3 linked regions of the Homo sapiens genome follow. The protein of the gene in region 3 interacts with the protein of the main gene of each other region in a biochemical or structural test. Each region holds a gene or a part of one and is shown on either strand. Other genes may lie near its edges.

Region 1 (7,083 bases), on a different chromosome or scaffold from region 3:
ACCCAGGCTGGAGTGCAATGGCGTGATCTCAGCTCACTGTAACCTCCACCTCCCAGGTTCAAGTGATTCTCCTGCCTCAGCCTCCCAAGTAGCTGGGATTACAGGCTCCCGCCAACACGCCCGGCTATTTTTTCTATTTTTAGTAGAGACAAGGTTTCACCATATTGGCCAGGCTGGTCTCAAATTCCTGACCTCAAATGATCCACCTGCCTCAGCCTCTCAAAGTGCTGGGATTACAGGCATGAGCCACCACACGCAAACTCCATGTGCCTCTTTCTAATATTGCTGATATTTTCATGTTGGAGAAAAAGAAAATTAAAAGGCAAAGAAGTTATGTGACTTTTCTTCTTTGTAAAGGAATTAGTCAGTCTCCCACAAGTATCTACAAGGATGTTTGGAGAGGAGTTTAGCTCACTTAAAACCCTTGAAAATAGCAAAGATTTGTACGACTTAACTAATGATGCCCAGATTGACTGTTACCTTGACCCTCACCCTCCAACTCTATACCATAGATTAGTCAACCTCAGTTAAAAATTACAACAGATAAAAGAGGCTCTTGGTGAGCTTCATCAAACATCCAGGCTGAGAATCTGAAAAAATAAATGGATCAGCCAGGCGCAGTGCCTCACGCTTGTAATCCCAGCACTTTGGGAGGCTGAAGCAGGCAGATCACCCGAGGTCAGGAGTTCAAGACCAGCCTGGCCAACATGGTGAAACCTCATCTCTACTAAAAAAAATATAAAAATTAGCCGGGCGTGGCGGCGCACACCTGTAGTCCCAGCTACTTGGGTGGCTGAGGCAGGAGAATCTCTTGAACCCAGGAGATGGAGGTTGCAGTGAGCCAAAGTCATGCCACTGCACTCCAGCCTGGGCAACAGAGCAAGACTCCGTCTCAAAAAAAAAAGAAAAGAAAAAAAAGGAAATGGATCATGGGTTGGAGGGAAGGCAGATTAGATCACGAAAGTAAGATCAGGAACCTTATCTAAACACACAACTTGAGAAAAATAAGACTTGATCCTTCTCAGGTATTTAATGGAGGCCAAGGCTAAAGAGAGGGAAAGAAATACTGATCAAGCCTGACAGGTATGCCTTGTTCCCCCTCCTAGGCCTTGGCCCCAGTCACTTCCCAAATATATACCCAGGAAAAAAATTTTCAGGATTATATCTTGTTTTGTACAACCAAATTGTCATATCTCAACTCTTCTCTCATTAGGCCCTGATCACTACCCTGGATGCACAAAGTATCTATCAAATTCCCACAAGGTAGAAGGGTTGCCAGGAATGGGAAGAAACTTCAATATTCGAAGTCACCAATCACAGAAGATAACTGGCAAAACAGTTCTACTAAGCAAGCACAGAGCCATTTGCCATATTAGTGGCCTAAGAGCTATGTCAACACTTACCTTATGCCACAACAAGCCGATTGAAAGGAGCATCAGATCTGGTATCTGTGTCATTAGGCACAGACAAAGGGCTGTGCTTTGAAAGTCGCCCAAAAGGCCTTTTCTCCAAATTCAAGACCCAGATGCTGCAGCTGTGCCCTGGCCAGAAAACGTCATACTCCTCCACCTCTAACAACCACACACTGAGAAATCCTCCCTGCCATCTCCACCCTTTCCCAAATACCTGATTTTATAGCAAAGTCAATGAGAGAATTAAAAGCTGTTTCTAGGCTGCTGACATAAAGTTATTGCCAAGCTCTATTCTTTGGTTTAGTTCATGTGTAAGCATGAAGAAAAGACCCTCTCACATACCTACTTAGGCAACAAAAGCAACATTTTTAAAAATTAATTTGCCCAGGCTGGGCGTGGTGGCTCACACCTGTAATCCCACCACTTTGGGAGGCTGAGGCGGGTGGATCACCTGAGGTCAGAAGTTCAAGACCAGCCTGGCCAACATGGTGAAACCCCATCTCTACTAAAAATACAAAAATTGGCTGGGCGTGGTGGCGCATGCCTGTAATCCCAGCTATTTGGGAGGCTGAGGAACGAGAATCGCTTGAACCCAGGAGGCGGAGGTTGCAGTGAGCCAAGATTGCACCATTGCACTCCAGCCTGGGCAACAGAGCTAGACTCCATCTCAAAAAAAAAAAAATTAATTTGCCCAATTCTGGAAAACCAAAGGTATGGTCTCCCCCACAGGCCCTTGTTTGCCAATTAAGAAAGGATTGTTGGATCCAAATTACCCTAGAAAGAGTAGCTTCATCTATGCTTATATCTGTGGCTCCCCTTGAATCAGTCAGCAGCTCAAGCCTCCCTTCACTTCAGATAAAGTAACTTTCAAGAGAGCATTGGTCTAGGGCCATTGGTTTACACCCACATACCAAAAACACATCACTTTCCCACCCAGAACGGCCACTGCTCCCAAGTGTACACACCCTTTAAGGCCCTGTTCATGTCCCAGTAAACCCTTTCTCCTCAAAAAGTTGTAGAAAATGCAATGCAAAGTATATATTTTTCTCAAGCCGTTTTTAAGTGAATTAGCCCTAAATCCCCAATTAAATAGGAGATAGGAGATCTTTGAAGGCAGCAGTTGTATCATCCCTTCATTTATTTCTATCCCTTATGGTAAATAGTACATAGTAACCACTCATTAAATGGTAAGAATTCAACTACCTGTCTTCTTTCTTATCCATCCCATCTAGCACAAAGTTAGGCATATAGTAAAATTCAGTAAATAATCATAACATTTGTATATCACTTGTTAGATTCTAGGCACAGTTCTAAGCCCTTTACATAAATTACCTCATGTAATCCTCACAGCAACTCTGTAAGTACTATTATTATTTATGGTTAAGGAAAATGAGGTGCAGAAGTTAAATAACTTGTCCAAGGCTATATAACTAGTTGGTCGCAGAGCTAGATTTGAGTCCAGGCAGTCTAGTTCCAGAGTCTGTTTTTCAACACTACTCTATGCTTCCTTTCCACGGAGGCTTGAAAGGTCTTTTTTTAGCTTCCTGCCCCAGGCTTGGCCTATAAGCACCTAGAGGTGAGTGGTGAACTTTGAGGCCAGGAGATTCTAGTCTGCATTCAAACAATTTGCTACAGCAGCAAATACTGTCACTAAATTGAAAAAGTGCCATACTGTTCTCCTAACTCAAGGGACAGATCAAGCTGGAGCGCTGAGTCAGAATTCAGAATTCAAAAAGGTCAGAGCTCAAAATTAAACAGGGCAAAGAGAAAGCAGGGAACTGGGGTGAGGGGTAGACAGGAAGAGAAGACAGTCATCGGAGATCCCAGAAAAACTTGCTATAGCAAAACCATTTTAGGGGAACTCCATTGTACCCATCTTGTTAATGTAATCACCACAGAGCCAGTTCTCTGGAAGTCTGTGCTCTCTGGGTGGAGTCATCCTTCTAAGACAGCCAAGTCCAGTGGGAGACCACTAACTTGGGAATTAGGAAATCCAAGTTCTCCTTTCAATACTGTTACCAACTATATGTGACCTCGAACAAGCTGCCTAACCCCTCTGGCTATGAATACGATGAAGAAATTACTCTCTAAAGTTTCTTAGGACAGCAAGGCCTAGTCTCAAGCAGGAAAATGTGACTAGTGTCCTCTCTCTACCTCCCTTCAGCCTACACATATGCCTTCCACCACCCGTCACAAGCCAAAGCAAAACACTTACCTTCCTGGGAAGTGCTACAAAGAGTTCCTGAGACAAGGTCAGAGCCTGAGCCATTTCCAAATAAAGAAACCCATGAGATCAGCTCTACACACTCAGAGGAACTTGCTCTTCCCATGGCCATAACTCCACGGTCATGTCACCACCAGCACAGAGGGAGAAGACACTGAGCACCTCACAGTGAGTGCCATTTAGAAGGTAGGCATTCACCATCCCTCCCCTACACTGGAGCCAAGCAAGTTAGGTTTTAGTCCTGGCACTATCACCAGTTCACTCAAATCCTTTCCCTTTTCTGGACTTTAGTGCCCCCATCAAGAAGATAAAGGCTGAGGCAGAAGATTTAAGGCCAGCTCAGTTGTTCCATGGTTCAAAACACTCCTGTGAGAAACCCTGCCCATCCAGAACAACCAGCTAAAGGAAAGCTTAAGGCTAGGGAAGCTCTGGGTTGCCCTAGATGCAAATGCCTTTAAAATGCTGTACCCCATACAAAATTAGCTGGGCATGGTGGCGCATGCCTGTAATCCCAGCTACTCGGGAGCCTGAGGCAGGAGAATCGCTTGAACCCGGGAGGTGGAGGTTGCAGTGAGCTGAGATCGTGCCATTGCACTCCAGCCTGAACAACAGCAAAACTCCGTATCAAAAAAAAAAAAAAAGCTGTACCCCACAATAGCCAGTCCTCAGCTCACTGGTGGTAGATACTTTATGAGGTTTGTTTAGGAGCCCTTAGGAAGGCCTCAATATCTACCAATATATCTAACTACCACACTCACCATGTTAGAAGAAAATCTGAAACATAATCTAGTAGCTTCCGGGCCTTCCTTTCAGCAGAAATAAAAAGGACTATTCTACTATCAGGCAGGCGGTCACTGAAAAATGTGGGAAGAATGGCAGGAAAATCTATGAGGCTTTTAGTGTTTGTCCAAAGCTTTTCAGTCAACCCACAGTCTTCATAATATACTCTCACTTGGTTTATTTCTTTCCACAGTAAGGAAAGACACAGCCCTTTCTCTCCCATGACTCGGGAAGAAATGGCCAAGAGTACTCAAGCCAGTATTCTTCTTGGATCTACTAATGAAACAAACCAACTCCCATGTGAGAAACAGTCCATTCTGAACTCAGCACTTAAGAAGAAACAGCACTCAAGGAGTATAATGGGACAAGAGGATACATTTTAATAAGCGCTGTTCAATTTTGTATTTCCAATACTGCCTGGCACATAGAAGGTACCCAAATGTTGAAGAAAGAATGTCTGAAGGAATGAACATACATATAAGAGACTCAATGCTCTTATACCATCAAGATTCTCAAAAACATCAGTACTGGAGGGATTCCTAGAGTTTACCCATCACTGGTACAGCTCCCTCATGACAAGCTGGAGAGACAGAGGGCCTGAAGAAAGGACTTGCCTAAAGTCCCACTTCATTTGGCTCACTTTACTGAGGACAGGAGAGAAGTTCTTCTTATATGGAAAGAGAAGAAAAATTCTCAGTTCAGTGATGCTTTCCATTTCCCAGCACCCACCTTCCAAATTCATGGAATCCTGAGCTAATCCTCCAAAGTGACAACTTCTATACCACAGATTAGAACCTGGAATTGAAAAGTTTTTCAGCTCTCTCAAGCATGAAATGGAAGGAGGGATGGACAGCAAAGCCAGTCAGTCATGAAAAGACCACCCCCTTCACTTGAACCAACAGACTATCCCAAAGGAGACCACATCTGTACCCTGTTTTTTCCTTTTTGCAAGCAAAGTAATAGAGCAGGTGGCAGGGAAAGAAGATTCTGAGTTAGGAAAGAGGCACATGATAAATTCAATTCTATCTTTGAAAGATTAGAGACAGACTATTAGCAATCTGTAACAATGCCAAATTTCCAGCAGCTATGGTTATGAAAGGCCTAACTCTGGTAGTGTTGGTAGCCAGATATTCTCCCCTCTGGGGACCCTGAGTCTAGAAATTCCAGTGGGGGAAACTCCCAGAAAGATACAAAGGGACCTAAGACAGGCTGTTGCCATGCAACACTAGAACAGAGTTCAGAATAATTGTAGCTGTCATATTATCTCATCCAGAGAGAATTAGATTTGGAGGCAGGGGAAATAGACTAGATGACTTCCAAATGTCCTTTCCAGCTCCATCATTCGGTAAAGTAGTTTCATGGGAGGAGGAGGTAAGAGAAAAGTAAGAACAACACCCTAAAACAAGCTACTGTTGCAGGCAGCTAGAGAATGGAAAGTTAGAAGATTAGTGATCAATACTACTTCTATCACTGACTCACAGAGCAACCTTTCCCTCTCCAAGCCTAACACGAGAGAGCATAGATTAGTTGGTGTGGGTCCCACAAAGGCCTTCCTGCCCCACCAGCCCCCTCCCTACCCAGAGGGCTGTTAAAAGAAAAGCGTAAAGGAAATTCCCAAGATGGTTCCTGCTCTGTCTCTATCATCTACACTTTCACAAAGGGCCAAGTGAACTGAAGAACCCAAGTGGAGAGATGCAGGATCCTCTCTCATATGACCTCTCTTCCTGATCCTTTTCCCCCCACTTAAGTCTGTAGGCAGGGCTGGTTCAAGGGTTAAAAGACTAAGAATCTGGCTCCTATTTACCAAGTACCACTTTAGTGCCACTCGAGTGGCTCAAGTAATGCTAGGAATGGCAGGAGAATAAACAGTCCACATAGTCCCTGTTAAAGTTTAGCTGAATGCCGACCCAAACACCTTCAAATACTTCAAGGATCTAGGCTCTATGTCTGCTCACATTGATGGTCCCATCAAATGACCACTCGATTGCCTTTCCCCTGATCTGTTGATCTATGGCTAAAACCCCAGCAGATCAAAGAGGTGTTTCACCAAGACTGACCCTCTAACTAAGACCTAGATTCAAGTCCTAGTTTTGCAACTGGCATACTGCATCACTCTAGGTTAGTCTCCCCCTAACATGAGTTTCAGTTTCATCATCTATACAATGAGAGGAATTGGACTTTATAGTTGTGGAGAGCCTTTTCAATACTAACATCTAATAAATCCCAAGGAAGGAAACCAGAAACTCAAGAACATCTCGAAAATTCAAAACACTCTTTTTTTAGGAAATCCAAGAAAGCCTCAAAGCCTTTGTGATCCTAAAAGAAAAAAATTAAAGAAGGTAGGGAGGGGGAAAGGCCTTTTTAAATATATATATATATATATATATATATATATATATATATATATATATATATATATATATAACTGTCATCATCACCAAAAAATGTAGATGGCAATTAATAAGCTTTTCCATTCTGGCTACTAAAGCAGACTCAGGAAACTGGCAACCAGAAGCAGAGTCCAAGGAATGGCAAGAAGGCAAGGGTGGCGGTGGGTAGTGAGGCATGTTTTTTTGTTTTTTTGCTTTTTTTGTTTTTGAGATGGAGTCTCACTCTGTCACCCAGGCTGGAGTGCAGTGGCGTGATCTCGGCTCACTGCAACCTCCG
Region 2 (7,206 bases), on a different chromosome or scaffold from region 3:
CCTATCCTCCAGATTTAGTCACCGTCTTGCATTTTCCCCCAAGGTTATTAAGGGTGGAAAATAACCCCAATCCTTGTTTTGCCAAGAGTACTCTTTATGTATTTCCCCACTGCCTACTGACTGTTCTTTTGAAGTGACTACAGCTAGATAGAGCTTTGGTCACTTTTTTGTTACTGGTTGAGATTAACCCGGCACCAGTGTGGAGACAGGCTCCAAGGTGATTTGATAGAAATCTCCTGTATCAGTGGATGTGACTGTTCTGGGTACAATGGTTCTAGTCCGTGACACTGTTCTGAGCTTCCGGGAGGGCTGCCCTTCCTCACTTTAGTTTTAACCTTGTCTGAAGAACTCCCAGGAAATTACCAACAGCCCTTCACCAGGCTCAAGAGGCAGACTTAGGATTACCCTTCTCTAGCTGAAAAACTGGAAAATGGAAACCCGGCAATGAAGGGTCATTCAAGGTCTTATACCTAAACTAACAGCAGGGAAGTTTCCAGTAGTCCTGGCTCCAGTGTTTCCTCACTTCCTTCCAAGGCACTGAGTATCATATATTAACAAAAGGATGACTTTCAAACACAAGGAACAGCTTCACAAATGAGGGCTAAAAGGAGAGGCAAGTGAAATATGCGTCAAGGTCCTGCCACATCCTAAGTCAGTTGTTCTCAAATTGTGGTGTACATCATCAAAACCACGTGGGGACTTGTTAAAGAAACAGATTCCCAGGGGCTGCCTGAGACTTAGTCTTAGTGAGCCATAAGTCCTGGAGAAGGGCACTATGAGTGATTCTAATGCATATTCAAGTTTCAACACAGCTGGAGTTGAGTCTTCTGTGTGTGTGCTGGGGGCAGGGGTTTAGGTTCCAAACCCTGATGAAAATAAATTACCCTTAGAAAATCTTAAAACATTCATAAGATACACTGTAAGTGTTTCCTTGGTGGGCAGAACAGTACAGTAACATGTAAATGCTATGTTGTCATACTTACAGTAATGTAAGATACATGATAAGGAATGCATGTACAAATATGACTTTATACTATTTTAACTTATGTAAGAAAGATTATATAGCATCCCTCTGTATCCACAGGGGATTGGTTCCAAGACCTCTGAGGATACCAAAATTCTCCAATGATCAAGTTCCTGACATAAAAGGGTACAGTATTTGCATATAATGTACAAAATCCTCCTGTATATCTTAAATCATCTCCAGATTACTTATAATATGTAATATAATGTAAATACTTGTTATACTATATTCTGTATTGGATTTTTATTGGTATTTTAATTGTAGTATTATTTTTATTATTTTCCAAATCTTTTCCATCCAAGGTTGGCTGATTCCATGAATGTAGAACCTACAAATACAGAGGGCTAATTGTACATAAAAGTTGAGTGAGTCAAATGCTCATATGATATGATTCAGTGACACAAGAATACCATGAAATACATATTATCCTTTCCATTTTACAGATGAAGAGATGGATGCTCAGTCAGGTTGACAGACTTGCCCGAACGGACCAGGTTGGTCAGTTTGCAGGAAGCAGAATTCAGACTTAGCTCTGTTTGCCTCAAAAACCTGCCATCGTTTCATTTTTATTTTATTTTATTTATTTTTTGAGACAGAGTTTCGCTGTTGTTGCCCAGGCTAGAATGCAATGGTGCGATCTCAGCTCACTGCAACCTCTGCCTCACGGTTGGTTTCAAGTGATTCTCCTGCTTCAGGCTCCCGAGTAGCTGGGGTTACAGGCGTGCACCACCATGCCCATCTAATTTTTTGTATTTTTAGTAGAGATGGGGTTTCCCCACGTTGGCCAGGCTGGTCTCGAACTCCTGACCTCAGGTGATCTGCTCGCCTCAGCCTCCCAAAGTGCTGGGATTACAGGCTTGAATCATCGCACCTGGCCGTTTCATTTTTACCACACTGCCACAGGCCACTTCATTTTTTGGCATTCCCCTAAAGGGTAAAGTTCAGAAATGCTCTTCAAGGTCTTGGGGCACCGCTATTTCAAACATTCAATTTAGAAGACAGTATACTTCAAATGGAGCGAGATAAAAATTAGATTAGAGGCATATCCTATTATGAGAGTTGGGAACCCAAACTGGCTAACCAGGCTCCAGGCAGTGATAAGGCAGTGGAGGTATTGATGTCCAGTTGGAAACATTATCAGTGCAGGTAATTTAAATATCTTTCATAGTTTTCTTTCTACTGCAGTTACCATTATATCTTCATTTTATTTATTTATTTATTTATTTTTGAGACGGAGTTTCACTCTTGTTGCCCAGGCTGGAGTGCAATGGTGCGATCTTAGCTCACTGCAAGCTCTGCCTCCCGGGTTCACACCATTCTCCTGCCTCAGCTTCCCGAGTAGCTGGGACTACAGGCGTGCGCCACCACACCCAGCTAATTCTGTATTTTTAGTAGAGACGGGGTTTCTCCATGTTGGTCAGGCTGGTCTTGAACTCCTGACCTCAGGTGTTCCACCTGCCTCGGCCTCCCAAAGTGCTGGGATTACAGGCATGAGCCACAGCGCCCGGCCTATAACTTCATTTTAATAAAAAAGAAATTCAGGCCAGGAGTGATGGCTCACGCCTGTAATCCTAGCACTTTGGGAGGCCGAGGTGAGCAGATCACCTGAGGTCAGGAGTTCAAAACCAGCCTGGCCAACATGGTGAAACCCCGTCTCTACTAAAAATACAAAAATTTAGCTGGGCTTGGTGGCGGGTGTCTGTAATCCCAGCTACTCAAGAGGCTGAGGCAGGAGAATTGCTTGAACCTGGGAGATGGAGGTTGCAATGAGCTGAGATTGCGCCAATGCACTCCAGCCTGGGCAAGAAGAGCAAAACTCCGTCTAAAAAAAAAAGGGAAAGAAAAGTTCAGTCTTTCAGAGGGAATACACTTACCTGAATAGAGGTCAAAATCTCAGAAGAGGCCTCCCTCCTCTCTCTGACCTCTGAAATGCCCTGGATCTGCAAGTGGGAGATAACAGGCCCTGACAAAGGGTTGCCCAAACAGCAGTGTGTCCCTAGGAAGACAGGTTAAGCATCAATTACTATGAGGCTAGCACGAGTTAAGCATTCCACATGCACGATCTCATTTAATCCTTACAAGTCTATGTAGGTGGGGCTACTAGTATGTTCACTCAACAAATTGGGAAACAGAGTTTGGAACTTCGCCCAAAGTCATTGGTTTCTCTTTCTACCAGGATAGATTTAAGTGCTTACTAAGTGTCAGGTACTGTTCCAGGCATCGTACATGTACTAACTCATTATCCTCATTAGAACCCTCTGATACAGGTGCCATAATTATGCCGCTTTACAAACAAGAAAACTAAAAGCAGAAAGGGAGGAGTAAACCCAGGAGAGGAATTCAGGAGAAGCTCTGGTCTCAACCTTTAGCCAACATCACAATCACCCGAAGGGCTTGTAACACACTGATTGCTGGGCTCAGCCCTAGAGTTTCTGAATCCTAAGGCTGAGCAACACCTAATTTCCACTTATGCAAGTTCCCAGTGAATGCTGTTGCTGCTCGTCTGGAAGCCAGACGTTGAGAACCCCTTCTAGAGTGAGCTCTCCCGCAGCAAATTCTACTGGCCCCCAAAGTATGTGTTTTGTGTGTCTTAAAAATTTGTTGAGAACCATTAGCAAAAAAACAAACAAAAAAACTTAATTCCTAGAATTTCAGAGAAATCCCATGGAGCTTTTTGCCAGTCACGTCAAAAGAGGCCACAAACGTGCCACTTAACCAGAGCTTCGGAAAGGCGGCGGCTGGGCCGGCCACGTGCACCGAGACTCGGGGCCAGGTGCAGCCGCCCCAGGGCCGAGGCCTCGGAACTGGCCCCCGGTCCCGGCCCCAAGCGGTCCAGCGATTCCCCCAAGCCGTCCGCCCCTCCAGATTTATTTACGTTTTCCTGACTTCCCCCTGCCCGCTGTGGGACAAACAGCCTCCCCACTTGCATCTGCGAGGGGAGTAGCGCGCACTTCCGCCAAGTTCCGCCCCCACCCAGCCCGAGGCCCGGCTGCCGCCATCTTGCGGGGGGCGCACCTCACAGGTCGGGAGCTGGGCGGGAAGGGGCGTGGTCCCGGGACCCGCCCCGCCGGGGCTTTTGGGAGCGCGGGCAGCGAGCGCACTCGGCGGACGCAAGGGCGGCGGGGAGCACACGGAGCACTGCAGGCGCCGGGTGAGGCGTGCGGCGGCCGGGGTCGGGACGGGGGTTCTGGGCGGGGGGTTCCTGGTGGAGGGCCCGGGCGGGCGGCGGGGTTCGGCGGCAGGTGCGGCGGGCAGCCTAGGGGGCGCGGCGCGGGGTTCTCGCCCGGCACCCCCGGGGCAGGTGGAGCTGAGCCGGCCCGCGGCCCCGCGACCTTCCCCTCGGCGCCGGGTCCCCTCAGGTCTCTCCCGAAGGAAACGCGGAGCCTGGGTGCCTGGGCGCCGTCCCTCGGCGGCTCCCGAGCGGTTGCAGTTTTTGAAAGAGTTTCTCAAAGGCTTGACGGTTGTGACTGCAGCCGCGGGGCAACGGTTGCTACACAAAGTGAAACTTGCCGAGTGCTCGGCTTCTCACGGGCTTCCTGGCAGCCCCGGGAAGTTCCTCGGCGGACCCCGAGCCCGCGCCCCCTCTCCACGGATCCCTCCCCAGCGAGTGCCCCCCCGCCCGCCCTGTGCCCCCTCTCCCCTGACCCCTCCCTGTCGGGTGCCCCGCGGGCTCGCGCTGGCTGTCCCGGGACTCCTTCCTCCTAGGTGTTCCTCCTGCCCCTCGCCCTCTCTCTCCCAGGCGCGCGCTCCCTCTCCCCGGGCCTTTCCCCGCCGGGTATCCCTGGGCCCGCGCCCCCTCTTCTCCGCCTCTCTCCGCTGGGTGCACCTCGAGTGTCCCCCAGACCCCTCCCCGCCCGGCCGGCGCTCTCTCCCCTGACCCTCCTGGCCGAGTGTTCCCCGGGGCCCGCGCCCCCTCCCCCCGATCCTCCCCACTGAGTGTTCCCCCTGCCCTCTCTCTCCCGGGCCTGCGCCCCCCACCAGCCCCTTCATGCTGGGGGTCCCCTGGGTGCGCACCCCCTCTCCTCGGACCCACCCCCAACTGGGGGGCACCTCCAGTGCCCGCCGGCTGCCCCTTGGGCGCGCGCCCCCGCTCTCGGGCGCCTCCTCGCCGGGGGCCCGGCCCGGCCCCGCCCCGCCCGTGCCCCCTCCCCATGCCCGCAGTGCTGGGCGGGGCGCTGACTCACCCGGGCCCGGGCTGGCCGGTTCTTAAGCGGCAGCGCGCTGCGGGCGCCGAGTGTCGGGCGCGGCAGGAGGACGAGGCAGGGCGGGCGGGCGCTCTAAGGGTTCTGCTCTGACTCCAGGTTGGGACAGCGTCTTCGCTGCTGCTGGATAGTCGTGTTTTCGGGGATCGAGGATACTCACCAGAAACCGAAAATGCCGAAACCAGTAAGTTGCCCAGTTTCTGGGCCGGGCGGACGGGAGAGGCTTCATTGGAGAGGGGAGGCACCTGCTCGAGGTGTTGGGGCAGTTCCTGGGGAACAGGGTTCTTCTCACACGCAGAAGACGATAGGAATAGGAGGAGGTTTTCGCCGCTCTTTGTTACTTGTTGACCCTTTTGTGGAGCGTTAGGAAAACACCATTTTGATGCTTTTCTCTGCAGTCTTTTTCTTTGTGAGCCCCCTCCCCAGTAGTTACGGTCTTTTCTAAAAACTAGAGGCCTTTTTACACTGCTTCCGTCTGTTTTTAAAGGGTATAGTAATACAACTTAGAAGTTTCTTAAAAAGTCCAAATCACAGGGAGACTCAGATGGCTTCCGACCACACACACCAGTTCTCAGAGCTCCTAAGGGTCCGAAACCACAGGCGCCCCAGATCCAACTGGGGAGATATTAAAGGGCGTTTGGGAGAGGAGACTGGCTTTCGGAAGTTGCCTTTCAGCTTCGCTTCCTACTAGGCCCATGAAGCGGTGCCCTGTACACCAGCAAACTTGCTGGCTGCAGCAGAATTTCTGTCTCTAACAGAAGGTTAGCCATGGACTTGAATTGTAGATGCAGGCAGCCGGTGGAGTTTGATAAGAGGTTCCTGGCAGGCCGGGCCGAGCACTCCTGGTCAGCTGATGAAAGGGCTGTGCCTGCGCCTCTGTCTCCTTGAATCTGATTGTGTTGAGATTGCTGGCGAGACCTGGGGGTTGTAGGCACAAGGCAGGTTCTCTGGGACTGACGCTTCTTAGAAAGTTGTATGTATTCTACCTGCTTTTAACACTGGGGAACTGGTGACTAGACATTAGGGGGAAGGTTTAACATTTTTTGAGTTTTGAATCACAATGGACAAAATATCAGGATTCATTACAAATTGGGATTACAGATACATCTGGAATTTTTTTTTGGTTTTTCAAACAAGTTGGTTCTGTAATCAATGCTTGTGTGCCTTTTGTGGGGGATGGGGGAGCGGAGTCTCTCTCTGTGGCCCAGGCTGGAGTGCAGTGGCATGATCTCGGCTCACTGCAACCTCTGCCTCTCAGGTTCAAGCGAATCTCCTGCCTCAGCCTCCCGAGTAGTTGGGATTACAGGCATGTGCCACCATGCCCAGCTGGTTTTTGTATTTTTATAGAGAGGGGGTTTCACCATGTTGGCCAGGCTGGTCTAAAACTCCTGACCTCAGGTGATCTGCCTACCTCGACCTCCCAAAATGCTAGGATTACAGGCGTGAGCCACCACACCCGGCCTTGTGTGCTTCTTCTGTTACATTTTATGTTCTCTAAGATCTTTGTTAGAGGTATTAATTTTGCTGTTAGGATAAAGAATTAATATGCCAGTAGATTCAGAAGCCAATATAATTTTTGCCTAAGTTACATCAAGATGATTCATTTGTGATGCAGAGTATTTTCTATACAAAATTTTTCTTTTTAATTCAAACTTAAAAGTGACACGTGACATCGAGGCTTGACAGTGCATGTGGTATGAAACTGACCTAAGTACAACCCCTTACTCAGGCAGAGCTGAGTGCAACGGTATGCGGAGGAGTGGTCAAGAAGATTACCCTTCTGGGTGTGGTTTTCTTTATTTCACTAAAAGAAGAGGTGCAGAGCTCAGCTAAGATAGCACTCAGGAAAAAGTTAACCTGTTCTCCGTCACTACTTTTCTTTCTCATTTCTCATAATGAATGGTAATTTATTTTTATGGTTTCTTTTTTGTATTTTGGTAAAATATACAGTTTATCCTCTTACTTTTAGGTTTACATTTC
Region 3 (2,887 bases):
AAGTGAGACAATTATCATTATGCTTAGGGTGAACTGTTTTTCTTCAATAATTTGAAAAAGTGACTTCACATTATCTGATGCTCGTGATTCTTTTTACTTGGTTGACCTCCAGTGATTAGAAAGCTCTGGAAAGAATGTAGTAATCACCAAAGTCAGATCTCTAGTTTCTGCCAGGACTGAGACAATGTATATGCCACTTAGTGAAACTTAATACTTGTGTGGTCACATGATGCTGTGCAAAGTATAAACAGGAGTGAGTCTTCAGTAAATGACACACTATCTTCTTCAGCTGCTCTTATAAAGTTAAGATGTTAAGCAGTATAGCAGCTGTCAGATGATTTTTTAGCAGATTAGAAAGAATACTAATTTTAAAGTTTTTGTATGCTGTTACCTACTGTACTCCATTTACAACTAAGTGGCAAAAGCAAAATGTAGAGAGAAAAAAATGTTATTAGTGTTTAAAAAATATTGTTTTTGGTGCCAACTAGGCCAAGCAGTGAGTCAGGTGCTGGCTGTTCAGTGATGGACTAAAAAGAAAATAGATATACATGTCTTGATGTAATTTTTAGCTTAGGGGAGGAAACTAAACTTAATAAGTAATTACATGGATAAATGTTTAATTAAAAGCTGTAATAAGGGTTTTGAAGGGAAAACGAGTGGGTTTTGAAAATATATTGAGGTTCTTAATTTAGAATGAGGGAGATATAGATTAGAGAATGCCTCTAAGAAACATTTAAGCTGTAACATAACACTGTCCAAAGAACTCTAGTTTATCAAAAGATGATATAAATGCTGAAGAGGAAAAATGTATTAATATGCCCTATTTCTGACATAAAAAACATAGAAACTTCTGTATATCTCTGAGAAAGCCATTGGCAAGATTTTTTTTTTCTCTTACGATCTTATTTGTGGCATTTAGCTATAATGGTCACACTCTGAATATTATAAGGATTTTCTTAGAGAACTGGTTAGTCATTTCAATTCATGGTCATCAGAGTCCCAGTTCTTTAGTAGATATTTTTATTTCCCCAAGCAAGTGCCTCTCTCCAATTCCTGTTCTTGCCTCTCTCCAATTCCTGTTCTTGTTAAAAACTTGTACCCTCCCTTCCATTTTACAACTGAACCTGAATCTATTTGAATCCAAGTTTGTGGAAGCCAACAACTATCATCTTTAGATCCATCATGACCATAGCAACCACCAACTGATTATTTGGATAATTCAGACAAACATGCATCTTGGGTCCTGATGGTCCTTATCACTGCTTTGATTCCCTTCTCTTTGGAGAACTAGTTGTACTGTTATAATAAACATGTAACTGTTGTTATTAAATGCTATCTTTTTGTACTAGACATTAATTGCATCCATTTTGTTATTTTCCAGGAAGAGAAAACAACAAAGACTATTTTTCTCCTGAGCTTCTCGTGCTCTATTTTGCATCCTCCTTAATAATACCTGCCATTGGAATGATAATTTACTTTGCAAGAAAAGCCAACATGAAGGGGTCATATAGTCTTGTAGAAGCACAGAAGTCAAAAGTGTAGCTAATGCTTGATATGTTCAACTGGAGACACTATTTATCTGTGCAAATCCTTGATACTGCTCATCATTCCTTGAGAAAAACAATGAGCTGAGAGGCAGACTTCCCTGAATGTATTGAACTTGGAAAGAAATGCCCATCTATGTCCCTTGCTGTGAGCAAGAAGTCAAAGTAAAACTTGCTGCCTGAAGAACAGTAACTGCCATCAAGATGAGAGAACTGGAGGAGTTCCTTGATCTGTATATACAATAACATAATTTGTACATATGTAAAATAAAATTATGCCATAGCAAGATTGCTTAAAATAGCAACACTCTATATTTAGATTGTTAAAATAACTAGTGTTGCTTGGACTATTATAATTTAATGCATGTTAGGAAAATTTCACATTAATATTTGCTGACAGCTGACCTTTGTCATCTTTCTTCTATTTTATTCCCTTTCACAAAATTTTATTCCTATATAGTTTATTGACAATAATTTCAGGTTTTGTAAAGATGCCGGGTTTTATATTTTTATAGACAAATAATAAGCAAAGGGAGCACTGGGTTGACTTTCAGGTACTAAATACCTCAACCTATGGTATAATGGTTGACTGGGTTTCTCTGTATAGTACTGGCATGGTACGGAGATGTTTCACGAAGTTTGTTCATCAGACTCCTGTGCAACTTTCCCAATGTGGCCTAAAAATGCAACTTCTTTTTATTTTCTTTTGTAAATGTTTAGGTTTTTTTGTATAGTAAAGTGATAATTTCTGGAATTAGAATGGTTGTATGTTTATTTATTATAAACTGCCTCCTTTAGTCACATTGTAGCTCTTTCTGAAGTGCTAAGTTATAAGAGTAAAATATTCAAACTATGGAAATAATACGGATACTCAAAATGTGACCCTTAGACTACTATTATTAAAATTACTGTAGGAACTTGATAAAAATGTAGATTTCTTGGTGCCAGACTAAGATATTGAATAGAAGTGTCTAGTTTTTGGTCCTTGGAATCTGCAATTTTTTAATTTAGAAAAATATACATAAAAAGATTTAATGCAGATGAACATGCACATGTTAATGGGCAACAAATGAACACCTGTGTACAGAACATTAAGAGCAAGAGATAGTAAAACTATTCTTCAGAGCCTTTTATATACCACATAGTGATGGCAGCACTCTTCCCTCACTGAGCAGTAACCCATAAATATTGTGAATCATACATTGATCATTTCCATGCTTCCTTTGGAGTTTTTTTTTTTTTTTTTTTTTTTGAGACGGAGTCTCGCTCTGTCGCCCAGGCTGGAGTGCAGTGGCGCCACCTCGCATCTCGGCTGGCTGCAAGCTCCGCCTCCTGGGTTCACG

The links. The genes of interacting proteins can lie anywhere in the genome.
Region 1: the proteins of VCAM1 (region 3) and MSN form a complex in vitro, tested with the Homo sapiens proteins (one study listed by BioGRID).
Region 2: the proteins of VCAM1 (region 3) and EZR form a complex in vitro, tested with the Homo sapiens proteins (one study listed by BioGRID).

The regions. Positions count from the first base shown.
Region 1 is NC_000023.11:65,670,654-65,677,736, reverse strand, and holds part of MSN (moesin), read right to left. Parts: intron 1-7,083. UniProt on the Homo sapiens protein: Ezrin-radixin-moesin (ERM) family protein that connects the actin cytoskeleton to the plasma membrane and thereby regulates the structure and function of specific domains of the cell cortex.
Region 2 is NC_000006.12:158,816,286-158,823,491, reverse strand, and holds the start of EZR (ezrin), read left to right. Parts: upstream 1-4,123; 5' UTR 4,124-4,175; intron 4,176-5,256; exon of another isoform or gene 5,257-5,325; 5' UTR 5,326-5,398; coding exon 5,399-5,410; exon of another isoform or gene 5,411-5,513; intron 5,514-7,206. UniProt on the Homo sapiens protein: Probably involved in connections of major cytoskeletal structures to the plasma membrane. In epithelial cells, required for the formation of microvilli and membrane ruffles on the apical pole. Along with PLEKHG6, required for normal macropinocytosis.
Region 3 is NC_000001.11:100,736,742-100,739,628, forward strand, and holds the end of VCAM1 (vascular cell adhesion protein 1 isoform a precursor), read left to right. Parts: intron 1-1,381; coding exon 1,382-1,542; 3' UTR 1,543-2,304; downstream 2,305-2,887. UniProt on the Homo sapiens protein: Cell adhesion glycoprotein predominantly expressed on the surface of endothelial cells that plays an important role in immune surveillance and inflammation.